Homo sapiens: one gene and its partners. The protein of the gene in region 1 interacts with the protein of each later gene in a pairwise test. Each region holds a gene or a part of one and is shown on either strand. Other genes may lie near its edges. The genes, in order: SLC18A1, MFSD6, TMEM120B and GIMAP1.

The links.
Region 2: the proteins of SLC18A1 (region 1) and MFSD6 interact in binary tests that used the Homo sapiens proteins (3 or more experiments, as listed by UniProt).
Region 3: the proteins of SLC18A1 (region 1) and TMEM120B interact in binary tests that used the Homo sapiens proteins (3 or more experiments, as listed by UniProt).
Region 4: the proteins of SLC18A1 (region 1) and GIMAP1 interact in binary tests that used the Homo sapiens proteins (3 or more experiments, as listed by UniProt).

Annotation. Positions count from the first base shown.
Region 1 is NC_000008.11:20,158,937-20,166,136, forward strand, and holds part of SLC18A1 (chromaffin granule amine transporter), read right to left. Parts: intron 6,172-7,200; coding exon 6,111-6,171; intron 6,029-6,110; coding exon 5,933-6,028; intron 1-5,932.
Region 2 is NC_000002.12:190,404,476-190,411,486, reverse strand, and holds the start of MFSD6 (major facilitator superfamily domain-containing protein 6), read right to left. Parts: upstream 3,133-7,011; 5' UTR 2,984-3,132; exon of another isoform or gene 2,428-2,983; intron 1-2,427.
Region 3 is NC_000012.12:121,778,715-121,782,731, forward strand, and holds the end of TMEM120B (transmembrane protein 120B), read left to right. Parts: 3' UTR 1-783; coding exon of another isoform or gene 784-948; 3' UTR 949-2,157; coding exon of another isoform or gene 2,158-2,292; 3' UTR 2,293-2,368; coding exon of another isoform or gene 2,369-2,478; 3' UTR 2,479-3,354; downstream 3,355-4,017. Other genes in the region: rho-related GTP-binding protein RhoF, read right to left, coding at 784-948, 2,158-2,292, 2,369-2,478. UniProt on the Homo sapiens protein: Necessary for efficient adipogenesis. Does not show ion channel activity.
Region 4 is NC_000007.14:150,719,504-150,724,875, reverse strand, and holds the end of GIMAP1 (GTPase IMAP family member 1), read right to left. Parts: intron 4,829-5,372; coding exon 3,951-4,828; 3' UTR 592-3,950; downstream 1-591. Other genes in the region: GIMAP1-GIMAP5 protein, read right to left, coding at 4,470-4,828. UniProt on the Homo sapiens protein: May regulate lymphocyte survival. Required for normal levels of mature T-lymphocytes and mature B-cells.

The DNA of each region.
Region 1 (7,200 bases):
GCTCGATGGAACCTTGGCCAAAATCCTACTAACTGTTGGATGTACCTCCCGCTGCACTTTAGGCTATACATTTCAATCTCTGTATCTTAACCTCCTGGTTAAGTTTGTCTCTTCCAGAATTGAAGCTGTAAAACTATAAATGGTTCTTCAAATGGAGCCCCAGATGCAGTCTGTGACTAAGATCTACTACAGACCCCTGGACTGGCCTGCTAGCCCATGCTCCAATGTTGATGACATCGAAAGCACCCCTCTCAAGGAACTTTCAACTGCATGACCCCTACTATGCCCCAGTTCGGCAGGAAGCAGTTAGAGCGGTCATCAGCCAACCTCCCCAACAGCACTTGGGTTTTCCTGTTGAGAGGGGGTACTAACAGACAGGACTAGCTGGATTTCCTAGGCCAATTAAGAATTCCTAAGCCTAGCTGGGGAAGGTGACCACACCCACCTTTAAACAAGGGGCTAGTAACTCAGCTCACACCTGACCAATCACATAGTAAAGAGAGCTCACTAAAATACCAATTAGGCTAAAAGCAGGAGGTAAAGAAATAATCAAATAATCTATCACCTGAGAGCACAGAGGGAGGGACAATGATCGGGATATAAACCCCAGGCATTCCAGCCAGCAGTGGCAATTCCCTTTGGGCCGCCTCCCATTATATGGTAGCTCTGTTTTCACTCTATTAAATCTTGCAGCTGCCAAAAAAAAAAAAAAAAAAAAAAAAAAAAAGAAAGAAAAAGAAAAGAAAAGAAATCTCTGAAATATGGGGATAATCATAATTTCTACCAGACAGGCCAGTTGTGAGGTTTAAACAAAATAGTGCATATCAAACATTTTGCATCGTGCCTGTCGCAGAGTAAGGGCCCTACAAGCACTGGTCTTGATTATTATCATCATAACTCGTGAGTGGCATGTCAGGACTTGAGTCCAGGCCATCTCACTCTAACTCCAAGTGTTTCCACTATGCCACACCCCCAGCGTGGTAGCACAGATGGCTCTGGTATAAGGAACTGTTTGAGATCAGCAGAGTGAGTTTGTCTGGATCTCACCAGCCCTTTTAATCCCTCTCTATACCTAGAAAAAAACAGTGCAGGCTAACAAAAAATACCATGGCAATTACAATTAAATTAAAAGTCAACAATCAACCATTTATTGGCTGACAACTTGTTTGCTTTTAATATTCTCTTCTATGGAGTAGAAGTAAGCACACCTTAGTGTATTTGTGTAGGCTATCCTGGACAGGTGGCAATCTGTTGCAAACTGTACCCATTCGTTTATATTTAATTGCTTAAAAAAATTAAAACTACTCAATTGTTTATCTAGTATGTGGAAGTAAGCACCTCTAGGAAGCCTACAGCCTCCTAGATACACCTCCTTGACATCATTTTAAATGGTGTAAAATTTCCTTAATTAGATTTTTCTCAATCCACGTTGCTCGTTCTTTAGGACCTGATTATAGCTTACATTTTAGCAGTATTTTGTGCAAAATAGGTGCTCCAGAATATGTATTTATAGATACATGACCCCTGCATGAAAAACATCTGTTTTTCACAGTGAATCTCTAAGGGGTGAGGGATTACACATTTTGTGACTATCAAAATGGTTTAAAGTAAAATTGTACAAATAATTTTTTATTTACTGATAGTATCCTGTATTCCACGCACTGGGCTAATCCATTTAGGATTCCAGATGAAAATGACTCTGAAAAATACCTACTTTTTTACAAATTAAAAAACTGAAGTTGGTCTTAGTCTGTTTTATTTTTGCTGCTGTAACATATTACCACAGATTGGGTAATTCTTAAAGAAAAAAGATGTATTTGGATCACAATGCTGGAAGCTGGGAATCGCAAGTGCATGGCACCAGCATCTGCTTGGCCATCTGGTGAGGGACTTCTTGTTGGGTCATAATACAGCCGAAGGGTATCACATGGAGAAAGGGCATTTGAGAGAGAAAAGAAAAAGGGGCCAAACTCCCCCCTTTTGTGACTAACCCACTCCTATGATAATTGCTTTAATCTATTCATAAAGGTGGTGCCCCTAGGACTTTATCACCTACTAAAGGTTCCACTTCTCAACACTGTTGCATTGGGGATTAAGTTTCCAACACACAAATTTTGGAGGACATAGCATTCTACCCCCGGCCTCCAAAATTCATGTCCTTGTCACAATGCAAAATGCATTCAATCCATCCCAATAGTTTCAGAAGTCTTAAGTGGTTCCAGTGTAAACTCAAAAGTCCAAAATCCAGAGTCTTGTCTAAATTAGTTATGGGTGAGATTCAAGGTACGATTAATCCTGAGGCAAATTCCCTCCAGCTGTGAGCGTGTGAAATCAAAACAAATTATACTTGGCCCTTTGTATTTGCAGGTTTCACATCCTTGGATTCAACTAATCGCAGATCAAAAATATATGAGGAAAAAAAATAAAAATAACAGTACAAGATAAAAATAATACAAAAAAGAAAATAATACAGTATAACAACTATTTATATAGCATTTCCATTGCATTAGGTGTTACAAGTCATTGAGAAATGATTATAGTACATGGAAGTACGTGTGTAGATTATATGCAAATACGATGCCATTCTATGTAAGGGACTTGAACATCCTTTGAGTTTGGTATCCGTGAGGAGTCCTAGAACCACTCTCCTATGCACACCAAGGGATAATTTACCTACTTTCAAAAATAATGGTGGAACAAAGATAGAACAGGCATTCTTATTTCAAAAGGAAGCAACAGGGAAGAAGAAAGGGGTAACAGGTCCCACGAAAGTCCAAAGCCCAAAACAGAAAACAATATTATGTCTTAAAGCTGGAGAATAATTGCCTTTGACTCCATGTCCAAAATCCTGGGCACACTGGAGTGGAGTTTGGACCCCTAAGGCATCAGGCAGCCCCATGTCTGTGGTCTTTCCGGGCTGAGTCTACCCAGCAGCAATCATGGGTTGGAGTCTTGTGCTTGCAGGCCACCATGCTGGTGCCCCTACAGTTCCGTGATCTTGGAAGTGGCTGTGCATGGCATCTTTTGAAATTTAGGTGGAAGAAGTCATGCACCCATAGCTCTTGCATTCTGCGCACGTGCAAAATTTGCACCACATAGACACCACCAAGGCTTACCACTTGCACCCTCCAGAGTGGGAGGCCAGGCCACATCTGGGCCCACTTGAGCCATGGCTGGCACAGTTGAGGGGCACTGCACTGAAACGCAGAGAGCAGAGTCCCAAGGTGGTCCTGGGCAGTGAGCCCATGGAGGGTGTCCCAGGCTTATTCCCAAACCATTCTGCCCTCCTACATCTCTGGGCCAGTAATGGGAAGCACAGCTTCGAAGGTCTCTAAAATGCCTTTGGGTCTTTCTCCCACAGTCTTAATAAGTGGTGCCTGGCTCACTTTTATCCACACTAATCACTTTAGGTTGCTTGGCCACAGTCTTGGTGTGCTCTCCTAAAGATGCCTTTTCTTTCTTTCCAAGGCCAGGCAGCAAATTTTCCAAGTCTTTCTGTTTTGTTTCTCTTTTAACCATAAATTTCACCTTTAAATCATTTCTTTGCTTTCACATGTCACTATATATGCAGTTAAAACAGCCACAAAGCAGCCTGAAGCTTTGCTGCTTAGATATTTCTTCTGCCAGATATCCTAGTTTATTGCCTCTAAGTTCTTCATTCCATGAAGTCCTAGGTTATGGATACAAGTCTGCCAAGTTTTTTGTAACTGTATAACAAGGATGGCCTTTACTCTAGTGTCCAATACCTTGTTCCTCATTTCTATCTGAGACCTCGTCAGAATGACCTTCACTGTCCATATTTCTATCAACATTCTGGTCACAACCTCTTAACCAATGTCTAAAAAGATTCAGACTTTCTCTATAGCTCTCCTCTTCTTCTGAGCCCTCACCAGAATCACCCTTAATGCCTTAACCACAGCAATACAGGCTCTTTCTAGCCTGCTCCTCCAAATTATTGCAGCCTCTACCAATTTTCCAGTTCCAAAGCTGCTTCCATATTTTCAAGTATTTGTTATAGCAGCAGCCCGGTTTCTCATTACCCATTTTCTGTCTTAGTCCATTTTCTGCTGCTATAATATAACAGAATACCAGAGTGCATGATTTATCAATGAAAGAGATTTATTTGGCTCAGGGTTCTGGAGGTTAAGAAGTTCAAAGGCAAGCCTCTAGTGTCTGTTTGGCCACCTGGGGAGTGCCTGGTTGCTGGATCATAACATGGCCAAAGGGGGTCACATGGAGAGAGAGCACACATGAGAGAGATGTAAAGGGAGCTGAACTCCCCTTTTATTATGACAAACTCACTCCCATGATAATGGCCTTAATCCATTCATGAGGGTGCTCCCATGATCTCATCATCTCTCAAAGGTCCCACTTCTCAAGACTGTTGCACTGGGGATTCAATTTGCAACATATAAATTTTGGGGGACACATTCACACCATATCAGAGGTCAAAGAGGTTAAATAACTTATCCGAGGTCACAATCAGTAAGTGACGTGGTCAGCATTCAAACCCAGGTGGACCTGGGCTATTTCCTCCCCTTGGTGATGCTACCTAGTATATGGTGGGCCACATAGCAAGCACTCAGAGGCAGACTACACATTACTTTCAAAAGCATGGACTCCTTTGGCTCCCAACACCTTTGAGGGATGCTCTTCATGTACAGCAGCGATTTTCTAGGTGTGATCACTGACCAGCTATATTAGCATCACCTGCAGACTTACTAGGGATGAAAACTTGTTTTGACTAAATTGCCTACTGTCTCCCAGCAATCAGAGTTTTAACAAGCTCTCTAGGTGATTCTGATGTAGTTGTTGGACAACCTTTGATGTCAGACTTTACAGACCAGATAGCATTGAGAAAGCTGTAAAAGATGGTGGCAACTGAGTGACTGGTAACTGAGTAATTGGTAACTGGCAACTGAGAATGGTCCCTAGGCTGCTGGGGAGGAGCTGCTCTGTGTTGTAGCTGCTCACTAGTATCGAGACCCTGAGTGGTCAGAGCCTTAGGGCAGGCGATGAATTATCTGCACTGAATACCGACTAACTCAATTAATCGTCATGGTCAAAAGCACTTGCAACCCATAAAAATTCAATTTGGCACTAGGAGTGCAGCTGGGAGTCTTGCTTAGAATTGCCCCCCCAAAATTAGATTTAGTGCTTTTTATTGCATGCTGAACTATATCATGTTCTTATCAGCTTCCCCTCTGGCCCCGTAAGCCTCTCCTCCCTGCAGTGATGGAGCAATTTGCACGTAGCCTTCCCTGTCCTCTTTCCTCAGGGTTCCTGGGAAGGGCTAGATCCTCCTCTCCAAGCTCCTCTCTAAGTCGCTGCATGAACAAAGGAAGCTGGAACCCTCTCTCCTGGGCCCATAGCTTTTCCTAAGTGAGTGCTACATACACCCCTTTTTAGAGGTAAAAAAGATAACCAAAGGGTAGTCTTGAGGATGAGGAGCTGAAGGGAGGAGAATGTGGATGGTAATGGTGCACATTAATATTGTACAGGGTACAAAGCATTTTCACCTCATATGTCATTTATTCATCCAATTTCTCTTGAACTAGATAGTATTTTGATGCTCATTTTAGCAATGAGAAAAGTGATGCTCAGAGGGTTTAAGGCATCTGCACAAGTTTTCACAGAAAATCAAAGGAGCTGAAACCAAAACCTGAATCTTTGGACTGGAAATCATTAATCATCCTACTACACAGCTAGGTATGTGACCTCTCCATAGCCCCTTTCATCCTCTCTCACCCTCCCCTTTCTCAGACTGCTTCTCTGAGGGACCACACACCCTCTTGGGCTTGATTCATGGGTGTGGACGTGGGAGGTCATTCTACAAAGGAAGCATGTTGTCCCTGTGTGACATTGAACGAAAGGACTCATGGCACCCACCTCCTCCTGCCAGGCCCTGAGCGGGGGTGCTGAGGTCACTTACCCAGCTGCCACTTGGGGGAGCACATGGTCTGCATCATCCAGATGGGCAGTGTGGGCTCCAGGATGGCCACCCCCATGTTGGCAAAGCAGATGGACCCTGGGGAGACTGTTCTGTGAGCAGCCGTGGCTGCTTGAAGCCCAGACACTCCCCGCCCAATGGGAGGTCATCGCCAGCTTACCTGCAGCCACCAGGATGTAAGGGTCTTTGAGAAGCATAAAGAGGGGAGTCCCCTTGGCACTCTGAGAACATGGATAACAAAAAATGTCCATTTGTACAGTGCATACATCTCTCCTATTTTCACAGAATCTGAGAAAGTACAATTATGGGCTTAGAGACCATCTACAGTATCTCCTTTACTGCAGAGACCAGGAACCCCAGTACAGGGAGAGAAAGTGACTTGTCTGATGCCACAGAGGAAGCTGGAGGCAGGACCCCTCCTGTGTGAAAGGTAGGCACTGTAATAGTCACAGATAGAGAAGCAACATATTCCAGCCATGGTTCCTGCGTTCACGTGACCATCAACAAGGTCAGAGTGGATTGGTAGCAAGGTCAGGGTTGGACAATAGATGTCTGGACTCCTGGTTTCCACTAGATCTCCCTGGTACTAATATTTGTCCTGGGAGAACCACAGGCAGAGCACCGAATCCCAAAAGCAAGCACAGAAGCCATAACTCAGAAAGCCTCTCAAGCTTTCTGAATTCTTCATTCTGATCATTTTGAGCCACACTGAACTAAGGTAGAAGAAGCAGGGTTAAAATACAGCCTAAACATCCAGGACCCACTCTCGTCAGGACACACTCTCATCTAAACTTGGTCGCCCCACCCTCTTTCCAAGCATCCCAGCAGTGCCTCAGCCATCATTATTGCCTTTGCCTAAACTACACGTTCTGAGCTTCTCCATAGTTCCATGTTCTACCCACTCTTTAAAGTCAAGCTTAAATGGCTCCTTCTTTTCTAGAGAGCTCCCTGACTCAGTAGCTGGGGCTTCTCTCTCTTCCAGACATCCTGAACACTATGTCCTAATCCTTCATGGTGTTTACTACTTTCTATCTTGTAATAGATTGGATCATTTTGGTATGATAACCCTCTCTGCACACACACAATAGTGGATTGATAAATTTAGAGATCCTAAAACTAAAGAGATCATTCGCTTACCCAATTATTATTCGAAGTAAAGAAACTGATGTAAATCATTAAAATATACATTTAAAAGTACAATAAACCCTTTGACCCAACAGTCCCACTTCTAGGAATTGACTCTAAAGATT
Region 2 (7,011 bases), on another chromosome or scaffold:
TGTCTCACTTCCTGAAGATAGCCACTGTCGGCTGGGCGCAGTGGCTCATGCCTGTAATCCCAGCACTTTGGGAGGCCTAGGCAGGGGAATCATGAGGTCAGGAGATGGAGACCATCCTGGCCAACATGATGAAACCCCGTCTCTACTAAAAAAATAAAAATTAGCTGAGCCTGGTGGCATGTGCCTGTAATCCCAGCTACTCGGGAGGCTGAGGCAGGAGAATAGTTTGAACCCAGGAGGCAGAGGTTGCAGTAGGCCGAGATCGAGCCACTGCACTCCAGCCTGGTGACAGAGCGAGACTCTGTCTGAAAAAAAAAAAAAAAAACTACTGTCAACAGTTTGGGGACAAAAAGGCGTATGTGTGCCTGTATGCAGGTTTAAACAAATGTATATAAATTTCTTCTGAAGCTAGTTTTTTTTTTTCTTTTTTTTGAGATAGAGTCTCGCTCTGTTGCCCAGGCTGGAGTGCAGTGGCGCGATCTCGGCTCACTGCAACCTCCACCTCCCGGATTCAAGCAATTCTCTACCTCAGCCCCCTGAGTAGCTGGGATTCCAGGCGCCCGCCACCACGCTCAGCTAATTTTTGTATTTTTATTACAGGTGGGATTTCACCATCTTGGCCAGGCTGGTCTTGAACTCCTGACTTCGTGATCCACCTGCCTCGGCCTCCCAAAGTGCTGGGATTACAGGCATGAGCCACCTTGCCCAGCCATTTTTTTCATTTAATATACAGCATCTTGATTTTTCAGCCAATGTGCAAAATAGCTAGCAGACACACATTTTTTGCATTTCTTCCTTTCCCTATAATGAGATTGCCAAATTAAGATTTGCTGTCAAAGGAAGTAAAACAAAGAAACCTGTCAGCTTCATACTGCCTTCAATCTACAACTGGTGAGGACAAAAGGGTAAACATACACACATTAATATACATACGTAATAAATATATAAATTATCCTACATGGCTAAATGTTAACATAAGTAATACATGTACATTGAAATCAAGTTAATTTTCAAAGGCACGAAGCTAAGGAAGACATCTGCGTAGGTGGAGAGACTTAATAGGTTCTGATTAGGGAGGGACACCATGTGGAAATTTCCTGGGCTTTGGAGCCAGAAACATGAGGTCAAATTTAACTCTACCTCTTACTGATTATGTGGTTTGTGTAAGTTGCTTAACCCTTCTGAGCTTCCTTTTTGTCATGCACAGAACTAGGGGAAAGATTTATCTTACAGAGATTGAGATACTAAATGTTTACAATGGTGTCTTGAACATAATAAGTACCCAAAAAAATGCCTTAATACTGTTAATAGTCCAGACACTATATATGATGGAATTGGTGATCCAATACTCACACCACCAAATACCTGTGAACTCTGCTTTTTGTCTTTGTGTTTTATTTGCCTTCACGCTTTTATATTTATTTGTATAGAGATGGAAAGTGCCTTAGAAATAAACTGCTGTAAACATGAAGGACACACAACTACTTAGTAGCTTTAATGCATTATTGAAGTGATGTTCTCTCCTCCTGTTTCCCCAGAGCATCCTGCACTGGGCTCATTAACAATGTCCCATCCTTCCCCTAAGCAATCCTAAATTTTACTTACACCTCGTGATAAATACAAGCCATCTGACTATCACTAAACAGCTGACCATATCCTGCACCTCTGCTAGCAGCTTGACGTGTCAAAAGCCAAGCTTCCCAAAGAGGAGGATCCTATCCTTTTACTTAACAAGGCTAAAACAGATGCATACACTTTTAGCTGGCTAGTGCCCACATCTTGGGGAAAGGACCTACCAAGTACACATCTCCTTTTATTACATATTTTAGTCAACTGTATGTCCACCCACCCTTCACATTCATCTATACTTAAGAGGTTAGATTTCTAGAAAATCATGGACTTCTAGAAGGATTAGGGGAAATTTTGGCCACTATAATATCCAACCATCCTCTTTTCCATGTGAGAAAACTGGGGCTCAGGAAGATGTGACATGCCCAAGCACACACATCTATTTAAATACCAGTTGGGATTAGAACCCCAACTCTTTAAGTCTTTTGCACACTAATAAGCAAGGTATTATATGTTCCAGTAGTTCTGTGAGGTGCTTATTCAATCTTTTTGGGATGAAAAGAAACGTCCGTGGTTGCGAATGCATAAAGGTAATTAACCCACCTGTCTGTCCATGTGGGGATGGGATTAACGAGGGGGAAAGTTGCGTTTGTATTTTTCCACCATCTTACCTAAATTTGCAGGAAAATTGCTCTATGGGCAATAAATATGACCCAGAAAGACTAGCAACCCCCAGTAGTATCTCAAAAGGGCTCCAGAGACATGTTAGACCAAGTGGAAGTAAAGCACGAGGTGGGGGATGTCTGCTAGGATGGTGGCTGGCAGAGCAGAGGTATTTTTTTTTCCGTATTTATTAACCTGGGAGGGCAGACGTTGTCAATTTCCTCCTCCTGCCACACAAGTGGCCGCGTCCTTGTCACTGGGGCTGTGTGGAGGTTCTCACCTCCTCCTTTTTCCCAGGGATGTTTATGGCGAGGGCGCGGGTCGGCCCGGGCGGAGGAGGACCCGGGCATCGGCGCTCACCCTCCGTCCCCACCCGCGGCAGCAGCTGTGGGCGCCCGGCGAGGGCTCCCTGGGCAGCGCCTTTGTTTTCCCGACTCCAGTTACGTTTGCGGAAGTGCTGCCAGCACGGGGCGCGCTGGGGGCGCAGGCGGCAGCCTCCCCCAGCACCCCACAAAGATGACACCCGACACGGAAGCCGGGGGAGGGAGGGAGGGAGGGAGCGGCGGGCGAGCGAGGCCCGAGCGGAGACAGCGGCGCACGCTGGGCTCCGAGCCCCGGCCCCGAAGCCCCTTTCCCGGCAGCAGGTGTGCGCGGCTGAGGTGCCTACCCGCCCTCCGGCTGGGCCCGTGCGGGGCGGGGGAGGCCAGGGCGGGTCTGCGAGCCCCTTCTCCGCAAGCCGGGCCCGACTCACCTGCTGCGGCGGCGGCAGCGCTCAGCTGCGCGGGGCGCGGGGAGCCCTGTCCCCGGAGCACGGGGCGGCGGCTCGGGGCGCCGGGGCGGCGGCTGTCGGGGCAGCGCGCACCATCCCGGGCTGCTCGCGCGCTCCTCCGGGGCTGCGACGGGCTGGGCGGGGCGCGGCGAGGCGAGGCGAGGGATGCGGACCGGGTGGGGCCACGGAGGACGGAGGCGGAGGGCCCAGCGCTCCCGCCGGCGCGACCTTCTCTCCCGCTGCGGCTCCTCCTCCTCCCCGGCCCCGGCCTCACAGTCGCCGCCGCCGGTCACTACCGGCTGGACCCGTTTCAGGGCCGGGCGCTGAGGACCGGCCGCCAGGTGCAGCGCTCCGCCTCCTGCGGCGGCGGCGGATGCGTCGACTGCCCGCTCCCGGCCTCCAGCCCGCCCCGGCGGCCCGGAGGGACACCTGAACCCAGCCGGGCCCGGGGAGCACGCTGAGGAGGCGAAAGCACTGGGCGAGGCTCCATCCCTACCGCACCCTCCACCCCCCCGCACCCCCAAGCGACTTCCGCTGAGCCCCCAGGCAATGAGTGCGGGCCAGGAAATGTGGGGGAAAATGTACTAACATCCCTTATTCCTTGAGCGCCTTTTAAGTGGCACACACAATGCTAATGCTGTCAGTGCGTTATCTCCGCGTCTGTCCCAGGTTGACCCGGGAGGGAGGAGCCGGCGGGGTGCGGGAGACAAACGATCTGTGAGTTTCGGGGCTCACCAAGAAGGGGGAACACTGAGACGAAGGCACCCTTTTTCAGGAAGCTGCTACTGGCATCTTGCTGAAAAGCCAACCGTGTGTGTCGCACTAAGAATATAATTAAAGTTGTATTTCTAGTTAAACACGCAGAGAGTTGGGGGAGAGTGGAGTATTCACTTGGCAAGTATGTCTGTGTGCCTGTGATGGGCTTTGGGGGATGCCACATCCTGTTCTTAAGGAGTTTATTGTCTTGTTCTGGCAACAACGACAAGAGTGACAATGGTAGCTAACGGCAACAACGACAAGAGTGACAATGGTAGCTAACGCTTATAAACATCGATTATGTACGGGGCACTGTGTAGGTACTCTTTGAGCCTTATAACCCTATAGGTGTAGGAAACGTTATTCCCATTTTACAACTGAGGAAAGCCGAGGCTGAAAGTTAATGTGACCCATCCAAAGTTACTAAACAGCGAAAGGGAAAGCAGGCTTCTTTTGTCTCCAGGCTTTAAGCTCTTAACCGTGAAATCATACTGGTAAGAATTTGATAGGCCCTGAAGTTTCTGAATTTTGAGTCCCTCTTTAGGAAGAATAAAACAATTACAAATACGAAGTTTCTAGGGCCCCTTCCTGAGCTTATGAAGGGTCTCTGAAGCTTAAACTATAGTAGCCTCATGCTAAATCCACTTTCAATATTGACGTAGATATTCAATCATTTCTTTCTCCAGGCATTTCTTTCTCCTGTCAGGAACACGAGACACTGGTCCCCTCCTTGAAACTCTTCCCTTCTCTTCTTTTGGTGCTCCGTAAGTGTTGGATTTTCCTCCTTGAAACTCTCCCCTCCTCTGCCTTCTGTGACCCACAAGTCTTGGGTTTTCCTCTTCCTCTCTGGCCACTCCCCTTTGCTCCACTTGAGTTTTAGTTTTCCTTGGGTTTTGTTCTAGGCTTTCCTTTCTTCTGATTCTGTTTGTTTCTGCGAATTCTCTCACTCCTTGGCTTCAATCACAGAATATTTGAGGGTGCTCCAAAAGCCCTCTCTCGGGGTCAGCTTTTCTCCTGAGGGCCAGATCCTTATGGCCAGTTGTCCAGTGGGATGTGTCACAGGCACCCCAACCTCACTAAGTGCCACGTCAATGTTTCTTTACCTTCTGTTCTTCCCCTACTCGTTTTTTTTTTTTAAGATGGAGTCTCACTCTGTCGCCCAGGCCGGATTGCAGTGGCGTGATCTCAGCTCACTGCAACCTCTGCCTCCCGGGTTCAAGTGATTCTCCTACCTCAGCCTCCTGAATAGCTGGGATTACAGGCATGTGCCACCATGTCTGGCTAATTTTTGTATTTTTAGTAGAGATGGGGTCTCACCGTGTTGGCCAAGCTGGTCTCAAACTCCTGACCTCAAATGATCCCCCCACTTCAGCCTCCCAAAGTACTGGGATTACAGGTGTGAGCCACTGCACCCGGCCCCTCATTCACTCTTGCTTCTGGGTTCCCAGACTCTGGGGTCCCAAACAGCCATCCACCCAGTTGTACAAGGCCCTTCTTCTCAATGCTCCTTTCACCCTTATACCCATGCCCAGTGTATTAGTTACCTATTGCTGCTGTAACAAGTTATCGTAAACTTTGTGGATTAAAACACACATTTATTATCTTACGATTCTGGAGGTCAAGAGTCCAAAATGGGTTTTAGTGAACTAAAACCAAGGTGACTACAAGGCTGTATTCTTTCTGTAGGCTGTAGAGAATAACCCATTTCTTTTACCTTTTCCACTTCTAGGGGCTGCTCACATACTTTGGCTCATGGACCCTTCCTCCATCTTCAAAGCACACCACTCTAACCTCAGCCACAATCCTCACATTGCCTTTTCTGACTCTGACCCTCATTACATTGGGTTCACCTTCATCATCTAGCGTAATCTCCTCCTTTCAAGAATCTTAATCCCATCATCAAAGTCCCTTTTACCATGAAGCATATTCACAGGCTCCTGGGATTGAGACATGGACATCTACAGCGGGCCATGACTCTGTCTATGACATCCAGTCAGATGCCAAACTCTTGATTCTACCTTTTCAAATATCTCTAGCACCTGTCCTCTTCTCTCCATCCCTGTGCTATCCTAATCTCTGTTATCTCTCCTTTGCCTGCAAAATTTCTCTGGTCTCTCTGCCTCAAAATGTTCTCTCATCCAATCAACTTTTCACTTTGCCACCAAAGTAATCTGTTTTCTTTTCTTTTCTTTTCGACAGGATCTTGCTCTGTCACTCAGGCTGGAGTGCAGTGGTGTGATCATAGCTTACTGTAACCTCGAACTCCTGGGCTCAAGGGATCCTCACACCTCAGCCTCCCAGGTAGCTGGGACTACAGGTGCATACCACCATACCCAGCCAATTTTTAATTTTTTTTGTACAGGTGGAGTCTCACTATGTTTTAGGAGAGGAGCAATGTTGGCTGGTTGCACAGCTAGGAGGTACAATACAATGTGAAGGGTGCCTCATGGTGTTGCACAATCCTATGAGACAGCAAAGAAATTACATGGTAAGGTGTTTGTAAAGATTCTTTTGGTGTTGGGCGTAGTGGCTCATGCGTGTAATCCCAACACTTTGGGAGGCCAAGGTGGGCGAATCACTTGAGCCCAGGAGTTTGAGACTAACCTGGGCAACATGGCAAACCTCATCTCTCAAAAAGTACAAAGATTAGCCAGGTGTGGTGGCATGCCTATAGTCCCAGCTACTAGGGAGGCTAAGGTAGGAAGATTGACAGAGCCCGAGAGGTCAATCTCCCAACCTTAGCAGTGAGCCATGATTACACCTCTGTACCCCAACCTGGGTGACAGAGTGAGACCCTGTCTCAAAGAAAAAAAAAAAAAAGTAACTGTAACCAGTAGCAAGGAGAAAGGTTAACAGTGGCATGGACCACAGTGGTAGTGGCTGGGATGGAGAGAAACAGATAGATTTGAGAGTTTGGGGAAGTATATGAGCATACTTGGTGATATGTTGCATGTGGGAGGCAAGGGAAAGGAGGTGTTAAGAATGACTCACAGGTTTCTGGCTTGAGCAACTAGGGAAGATTGTGATAACCTTTACTGAGAGGGAGGAGACTGTGGGAGGAGCAGGCTGGAAGGAAAAAAGGAAGAATTCACATTTGACTCAGTGAGTTTGAGATGCTTGTGAGCCTTGCAGGTGGAGCTGTGAAGTAGGCAATTAAACTTGAGTCCACAGCCCAGAAGAAAGGGCTGGATTTGGCAGTCATCAGTATTGAGGTACTATTTACAGTCATTGGACTGAAGGGGATTACTCAGGAA
Region 3 (4,017 bases), on another chromosome or scaffold:
TACCACAGTGGGGGGAACAGTCCACAGAAAACTTGCTCATGACCACACTGGGAGCCGACTGTTCTTCCCATCCCAAGTCTCTGACACTGGGGGCTTTGGGTGAAACCTTAAGGAGATGGTCAGATGGGTGGTCCAGGGTATACTTTTAACAACTGAGAAGCCATTTTTTCTGCCCCCTGGGCACATGTGCCCAGCTCTGCAAAGACAGTGGCCAAGTTGAAGACAAGTCTTCCATGTGGGGTGGAGATGGGAGGGGTGGGTGCCAGGCTGCAGCCTGTGTCCTCCTGATAGGCCCAGCCCCCTCGGTGGCCTCCGTGTTCCTGGGGGAAGGAAGGAAGGAGCTGGAGGATACAGTGGTGCCTATCTCGGGAGCCCAGGGAGGCAGGGACACAGGAGTGGCAGGCTTGGGGCGCCCGCGTGGAACAGTGCCAGGTCTACGTTTACCCACTACCAGATAGACTTTTTCATTTCAAGCATAACTTGAGTCTGCACTGGGGAGACACTCGTGGTGGGGGTGGCTGTGATGAGGGCACTTGCGAGTCCCGACAACAGACACTGGCTCCTGCACCCACATCACCACCATGTCCCAGGGGCAGCCTGGAGGGGAGTTTGTGGTCAGAGCCCCAGCCAGGAAAGGAGAGAGTTCCAGAATGTTCCAAGAGTCTAGCCGCAGGCCCCAGACACCATGAGCTGGAGGGTCGGGATGGGGCAGCCTCCCTGGTGCAATCGGCACCTGGGCCCCCGGGCCCTGTCAGTGCTGTCGTGAGGTCTGTCTGCCCTGGGTCAGAGCAGCAGGCAGAGCCGGCGCTTCTTCTGCCGTTGCGCCTTCTTCAGAGCGCTGAGAGCCACCTTGGCGGCCTCCCGGAAGACGTCCTCCACATTCTCCCGAAACTTGGCGGAACATTCCAGGTAGAGAGCAGCTCGGATCTGTTCGCAGGCGCTCAGGCCCTGGGTGGGGGGAGGAGCCAGCATTAGGTGAGGGGCCCCTGGAGGTCTCCTAGCACCACCTGGTGGGTTTGGGACTGGCTCTGAGGACTCTGCAGGGATGGAGGCCTTGGTTTGGGCCTGTCTGTCTCCTCCATCCTGGCTGCCCCTCACAGTGTGTGGGTGGAATGGAGGGCCAGGGCAGTGCAGCCCGCAGGTTGGAAGAAGCCCTGTCCAGGCCCCCACCCTGGCCTCTCTCCAGCTCCGGGCAGGGAGGGGCTGAATCCTGAGACCCGGGGTTGGTTCCCCCAGGTGTCTCCCAGGCCTGTGAGAAGAGTTGGAGGCCTCAAGACAGAAAGGACTTCCAGCCACCTCTCTCCCTTCTCTGAAAGTACCATTTAGGCAAATTAATTTGCCCTTTTATTTATTTATTTTTGAGATGGAGTTTTGCTCTTGTTACCCAGGCTGGAGTGCAATGGCGCGATCTTGGTTCATCACAACCTCTGCCACCCAGGTTCAAGCGATTCTCCTGCCTCAGCCTCCCGAGTAGCTGGGATTACAGGCATGCGCCACCATGCCCGGCTAATGTTGTATTTTTAGTAGAGATGGGGTTTCTCTCATGTTGGTCAGGCTGGTCTCAAACTCCCAACCTCAGGTGATTCGCCCGCCTCGGCCTCCCAAAGTGCTGGGATTACAGGCGTGAGCCACTATGCCCGGCCGGATTTGCCCTTATTAATGGTTATTTCTTGTGAAAGTTTCTTTTTGCCTTTGCATTCCTTTTATTCTGTTTATTCCCCCATGCCTCACCCAAAGAGTTGCACGGTCAATTGGCCCGTGAAGGGGACGCCTACTTTCAAACAAGGCAGACAGGACACGACAGGACGGCGGCTCATAGCACAGACTTTGGATTGCAGTGGATGGGACCAGATCCTGGCTCCACTTCTCGCTAGCTGTGTGGCCCTGGGCAAGCTGCTTAACCTCTCTGGGCCTCAGTTTCTCCCCCTGTAAACTGGGGGATGTGAACAGCGCCTGCCTCCGAGTCCTAAGGATTGGGAGTAGTCGTGTAAAGTGCTCAGGTCCACAGGCCATCAATACTAATAGTTAAAAATTATTCTTAGAATCTTGCTTCCCTCAGCTCCCTGAAAGGCCACTAAGGCACCCCAGTTGCAGAGGCCAAAGGTCCGGGAGGCTTCACAGCCACGGCTGTGCCCCAGGGTCTTGGCCCCGGCCCACCTGCATGTAGGTGATGGGCTCCAGCTGGGCGGCCCGGAGCTTCCGCAGCTGCTCCTTGTCCTTCCTCAGGTCTGTCTTGCAGCCGATGAGCACCATGGGGATCCCGCGGCAGAAATGCGTGACCTCAGGGAACCACTGTGGAGGGAGGAGGCGGGATCAGGGGTGCGGCCGGGCCCAGATGTGGGGCCACCACCCAGGAGGCCGGCCTCACCTTGATGAGGACGTTGTCGTAGCTGGTGGGATTCATGACGTCATAGCAGATGAGCACGAGGTGGGTGTTCTGGTAGGACAGGGGCCGCAGCCGGTCATAGTCTTCTTGCCCTGAAAGCACAGAGCAGCGGGGGTCAGGGGACGTCCCCTCCCTGTCTGGACTCTGACGGGTGAAGGGGAAGGGGCCAGGCAAGTGACCCTGCCTTAGGGCCTCAATTTCCTCATCTATACAATGGGCAGCAAGCCAGGAGTGCTGGCACAGGCCTGTGGTCGCAGCTACTCGGGAGGCTGAGGCCGGAGGATCGCTTGAGCCCAGGAGGTCAAGGCTACAGTGAGCCGTGATCATGCCACTGCACTCCAGCCTGGGTGACAGAGCGAGACCCTGTCTCTTAACAACAAAACCCATGAGCGGCAGCCCCCCAGTCCTGGATGGTGGTAAAGAATCCTCAAGATCAAACCCACGCAGTGCTGAGAGCTTGGCCTGATTCTAGGGCTGGGGCTGGAGAAACTGCTAGAGATGATGCCGATAGCCAGTGTGATCCCCCTGCCCTGATGGTCAAGGGCAGAGTGCAGACTGGAACCCTCCCCTCCCCAAAGATTCAGACCTGTGGGGCTGAGTGGGCTCATAGTGTCCCCAAGTCCTGAGAGGCTGGTGTCTGGCTTCAGCCTCCAGCTTCTCAGGTTCTGATGCAGTCAGCTGAGTTCCCTGCCTATTCTTGCAAGCACTAGGAGGAGGGTGGTGGGTTGCTGGGAACAGCACCGAGCGCCCTCCCCACCCAGATTCACAGAGCACACTCCCTGGGGGGATACTTTAATCCGGAGGCCGTGACGCCTGGCTCCGCCCCGAGACGAGCTGAATCCAAATACGGATCTAGGCTTGAGCTTGGTTGGGTTTGCTTTTTTCTTCTTCTTCTTTATAAACAATTCTTTGTAACTTTTTGTATTGACAGTTTCAAACTTACAGTAAAATTGCAACACGAGTATGAAGAGCTCTCTGACTGTGATTCACCACCTGTTTGCATTGGCCCCTCTGACTTTATCTGGAGACAGACACTTCTGTTTCTCCCTGTCAGGGCACGGTAACTGTAGACATCTGCCTCTTCACCCCTTAGCTCAGCGCCTATCTGCTGAGAACAAGGGCGTTCTCTCCCCTGCCCCAAGCCCCCAGAAACCGCATGGACTCTGCATTCTAATCTGATCCACAGACCATAGTCAGATTTTGACCATTTCACCAATATTGTCCTTTATTTTTTTCCCCGTTGAGGAGCCAGCCCAGCCCAGGGTTCTACACTGCACTTAGTCATCCTGCCCCGGTATTTTTTTAAAATCCCCACAGTGAGAACTGAGAGCTTTTCAGGCTCATTGGTGACCAGCCCCCCGCCCCTCCACTTCCTTCCACTGAACAAGGAACGTGGAGGCCCAGGAATCCCCCTGCCCTGTCCGCAGCTGTTGCAGGTGCTGGGTGGCACCAGCCTGCCCCCCGTTCCTTCTCTGCCAGACACCTCTCAGGACAAGTGGCCTCTCCACGGAGTACCACCAGGCCATGTCTGCTCCTAACCCCTTGCTGGTGATGGGGCATGGCCACCCTCTCCCCACTGGATCCCCCTCAACCCAGGGACCTCCAAAAGTCTTCAGCCAGCTCCCCCATGG
Region 4 (5,372 bases), on another chromosome or scaffold:
TACAGAGAATATTAGTTATCTCCTTTAACACAAGAAAGAATCAGTGGCTTTCCAAGAAGAAGGCCTTCTCTGCCTACTGGAGACAAATTTTGATAATTCAGGCTTAAAACCTGGAGTTGATCCTTCTGCAGAACTGGAAGTCAGAAAGTCTTTCTTTCCTTTTTATTTCTTGAGATTGAGATGTCTATCCTTGGTGTGTGTGTGTGTGTGTGTGTGCGCGCGCGCACGTTTGCATGCATGCAAGTGTGTGTGTTTAATTTTTGAGCAGTGGTATGCAATTCTCTTCAGTGTTCATCATGATACATTCTGCTAGCATGTAGTAGAAAAGATAGTCTAGGAGTCTTCAGACGTATGAAGTCAAGAGGATATGCACAATATAACACCATTTTGAAAGTAAAAAAAGTCCAAGTGCCTAAACTTAGTGGTATGTAAAGAGAATTATGAGGAGGGAAAGAAAATATAAAAATATGAGAAGAATTAGGCAAAGAATGTGATTGAAAGTATAAAAATAAGACTCAAACCAATAATTATAACTAAACATCCAGTATATGGAGTGATAACTTCTTAAAGAAATAAAGAGGAGGGGACAAATTTGTAAGCATCTCAATAAAGTATTTTATTGGCAGAATAAGCAAGAACCGAATCTAGTTGCCTAAGAAGAGGCCAACATTGCCACTGTTAGATTAAGAATCATGGGGGAAAAATGAGTGTTGAGCCATAGTCTAGCTATAGCTTCCCCAAGAATTTACAGAAATTCTCTTCTGGGGTACTGAATCCATAGGTGAATCTCTGGAAGGAGCACTGGCATTTGCTAGGGCTACTGTGCGGGCTGGAACTGAATATTGATTGTGTAAGAATATGTAAGAATGTACTCTGCCTGAAATCTTTTGCTCTAAAAGTTCATCATGGCCAACACTAGCTTTCAGAAATAAGCCAGATACAAGTCTTTTTGTGTAGAACAAAAGCTGATCCAGGTACCAGGGCATAGAAATATGAACAGAAACATTATCAGCACAGGACCCATACATTTTTATCTTCCAAGAGATAAAAGGAGAGGAGAGGAAGGGGGACAATTGAAATGGATATATATTTACACAATTTTTGAGGTATTGGACAGTATTTTTACTGTGTCTGGTTAAAATTAGCAAGCAAGTTTTTCCAACAGGAGGCAGTGCTGTTTTATGCTGTAATTTAAGTATAAAATTGATTTGTGCTATCAAATCACTCAAATTACATAAGTGAGGTCACAAGGCCTAACCTTGAGCTATGGGGGAAAAAGCAACCTTTAAGCCACAGCCTAAAAAAAGACTTTACCGAAGGGAATGGTGAATGCCAACTGTTCTGTAGCAGGAGAAAAGGATAAAATAAGCTGAAAGGGGTGGAAATACAGTAATTTGGGGGACCCTGTGCTTGAAGGGAAGTAAATTTCCTTAGGGCAGGAGAATATCATTAATACAATGACATGCTTGCGCGAAAGAATTTTCTGTTATCTATGGTAGAAAATTTAGAAAATGGTCAAAAGTCTGGTAGCTAGAAATCTAATATTAAAAAGGTACAGGAAAGTCAACTTTACAATTCATTTTCCAAACATTTGTTGATCCCACTTTCTATGCCAGGCACTGGGTTGTATAACGGGGATACAAAGATGAAAAAAAAAAGATCATAATCAAAGTATCTGAAAAAGAAAACCACTAAAGAAATGTTATTGAATGTAAAGGAAAACTGTAACTTCTTTAATAATACATTATTCAAATTCAAAGATGATAGCACATTTTGAGATTCAGATTGGTAATGTATCTTTGATTACACTTTGCAAATGTATTTGACAATTAACCATATACTACTACTTTTTATTACTGAGGTAGGAGGCAGGACTAGACTCTGGAGGTGGGGATTGGGCTCCAGACCACACTGAAGACAAGCTGAAAGGGAAGAGGTGAAAGAGTCTCTCCATAAAACACACTCACCAGTGCCACGTCAGGTTACCATTGCTAAGGCAACAGCTGGAAGTTTTGGCTCCTTTCCATAGCAACAATCCCACGACCTGGAAGTTACGACCTTTTTTCTAGAAATTTTGGCATAATCCACCCCTAAATTTGCATATAGTTGAAAGTGGGTATAAATGTGATTGCAGTACTGCTTCCGAGCTGCTACTCTGGGCACACTGCCTATTGGGAGCCCTGCTCCACAAAGCAGCTTTGTTGCTGCTGTACATTAAACCACTTTGATAAAAGTTGTTGTCTAACACCAGCAGCAGCACTGGCTCGTGCGCAAGTGACCGTGGACGACCACGCTGTGCCCTCCCTGCTGTCCCCTCTGGTCATCAAAGGATCCTTCCCTGGCTCGAGGCCCCTGCCTGGGCCCAGAAAGGCTGCTGAGGAAGCGAAAGGCAGGAATTAAACATGGGTTTTTCTTGAGCCACGCTTCAAAAAGTCCAACTCCCTGCAGCGGTCACCAAGGCCCTCAGGACCCCTCACCATAGCCTGCCCGAAGCCCGCAACCCACCTGGAACCTCCTGCAGTCCTTAGCCTGAGCTGGCAATTGTGCGCATGCTTGCAGACCCCTTCTTCCCAACGTGTGCTGGGGAAGACCCTAGGGCGCCTGCGCACACTCCCTCCTCCTCTTCCTCTTGAATAGAGCTAATGTGAATACCTGCTTCCCATGTCTCCATGACCTCACTAGAGGCTGGCTGATTTAAAGACAATGAGTTCCCTTAAAGGGTTCTCATTATGCTCAGAAATAGAAATAAGGAAATCCTATTGTTTGATTCGCACAACCAGTCAGCGGCAAATTTTCTAATCACGTGGCATTCGAGAACCTTCCTGGACAGGCCCATCCCGAAAAAACCGGATGCTTTCGCCTCACAGCATAGGATGCTCAGGTGTCTGCAGTCTCAGCCTATGCACCTGGTGCTCTGCCTCTTCTCCATAACCAGAGAGGAGCTCGAGATACAGACTGTGTGTGTGTGTGTGTGTGTGTGTGTGTGTGATAAAAATATGAATAACCATATAGAAGATATTATATGTTATTTTCCCAATATCCTACTCTTTTTCTTTTTCTTTTCTTTTCTTTTTTTTTTTTTGAGACAGATTCTTGCTTTGTCACCCAGCCTGGAGTGCAGTGGCACGATCTCGGCTCACTGCATCAAGTGATTCTCCCGCCTCAGCCTCCTGAATGGCTGGGATTACAGGCGAGTGCTATCACGCCTGGCTAATTTTTGTATTTTTAGTAGAGATGGGGTTTCGCCATGTTGGTCAGGCTGGTCTCGAACTCCTGACCTCAGGTGATCCACCTGCCTCGACCTCCCAAAGTGTTGGGATTACAGGCGTGAGCCACCTCGCCCGGCCCTTACTTCATTTTGGAATGCCATGAACCATAATATGTTCTAGAAAAGTGGAAACTGTTATTTTCCACTTTGTAACAGTACAGTTACATTCATCTTTTTGGTAGTAAATCATTGTACTATAAACTGATGTCTCAGAAGTAACATTCACGTGTGTAACCCCCACATTTCTTTTATTGATGCTAAAAGTCTACAAGGATCACAAAGGAACCTATCTACCCATGTATAAGAACTAGAAAATTATCAAGGAGGGGCAGTCTAAATTTTTTAAAAAGCTCGAAAATAATGGCACTTGTTTTCCCTGTGCCATGCGTTTGTCCCCACTACAAGCTACTTGACATTAGACTACCAAAACTACCAAAGGAAGTTATTGTTAGACGAATTTATTTTAAAACTCTGCATACACATCATTTAAAATGAGTTAAAAACTTAAAAAGTGAACTCTGAGCTTTGGCAAAGTTGCAAAGGTGATGCAGCAAAGTTTTCTGTGTCATTAAAACTATGCCTGAAACTACAGGATTCCTTCCGTTGGAATGAAGTTTTCCCTTCAGCTCCAAGAATTCAGCCTCCCTTAACCAAGTTGCCTTCAGTTTTAGGACCTGCGCTGTCAGTCAGGCCCGACCTCCGCAACGGCCTCCGACCACCGCCTGTGGAGCAGCACCCAGAACAGGAGCGCGCCCCCCAGCAGCAGGGCCAGGCCCAGCCTCCAGCTCCTGGGGGACTTCAGCCACTTCCACAGCCGGGCCGACAGCCAGGCGCCCCATGGCCTCCTCTGCACCCTGGCTGCCACGCGCTCCGCCACCCGCCGGAGCCGCTCCTCAGGGCCTGCCCAGCGCAGCACCTGCGCCAGCTCATACACCTCGTTGGAGTAATGGGCGCCCTTGTGCTCCAGCACCAAGCCCTCGACCATCCCCAGCAGCTGCTCCACCTGGGCTTCCTGCTCCCGGCCGGTGGCCCGGTTATCAAAGGCACAGACCCGGCCCCCGCACTCGGCCACCAGCTCGCGCAAGGCCCGGTTCTCTGTGTTGCTCACGTAATCGTGCAGGGAGCCCCCGGCCAGGTCCTCCTTCCTGGTGAAGACGATGACCATCCATTTTAGGACGTCCTCCCCGAACATGTCCCTCACCTGCCTCACCGCCTGCTGGTCCTGGGCGGTGAACCGACCCAACTGGGTCACCAGGAGCAGCGCGTGGGGTCCGGGGGCCGAGAGCAGGTAGCAGTGACCTCTCTCCTCACAGCCAGGATCTGTCTTGGACACTTGGGAGCTGAAAATGTCCGGAGTGTCCACGACTTCCACGTGGCACTTGTCCCACCTGCGGCTGCCCGTGGTGCAGGCCCTGGTCACAGACGTGGCCCCCAGCCTGGAGAAGAACCGTCTCTGGCCCAGGATGCTGTTCCCAGTGGCGCTCTTCCCGGCCCCTGTTCTCCCAACAAGGATGAGCCTCCGCGTGGACTCCTGCCGGGACTGAGCGTTCTCTTCTAAACCTGTGAGACCAAGTGTTATAATCTTACTTAAGTTTAACCAACTTCCCCTTGGGAACTGGAATCTTCTTGCCTTTAGCATAAGTGGTTAAGAATAGAGATTTGAACGCCTGGGCGTTCATTTCCACCTTTTCCTTTTGTATTTGGGTTGTCTGCCTGCACCAGTAGATGCTCCAACTACAGTTGATTATCATAGAAATGCTTCTTTATCAGTCCAGCCCAATAGTTCATCTGACATTTCTGGTCATCCACACACATGCAGACATATTTATTTCATATTTGAAAATTTCGATGGACTCTGAAATATTCTCCCAGAGACCATCCCCAGAGACAGGCAGTGGGGGCAATACTGCCTGGTAGTGAAGAGCTGTGTGGAGTCCCAGATACCCTGGTTTGAATCACAGCCCCACCACGTGCTGGTTGTGTAACCTTGGGGAAGCTGCATAATCTAAGTATTAAGCCTCTTCGGCAAAAGTGGGAGCGATAATAGGGGCCTGTTTCTCAGAGGCCTGTTGAGGGGGTGAAATAAGCCCTCTTTCCTTCTTCT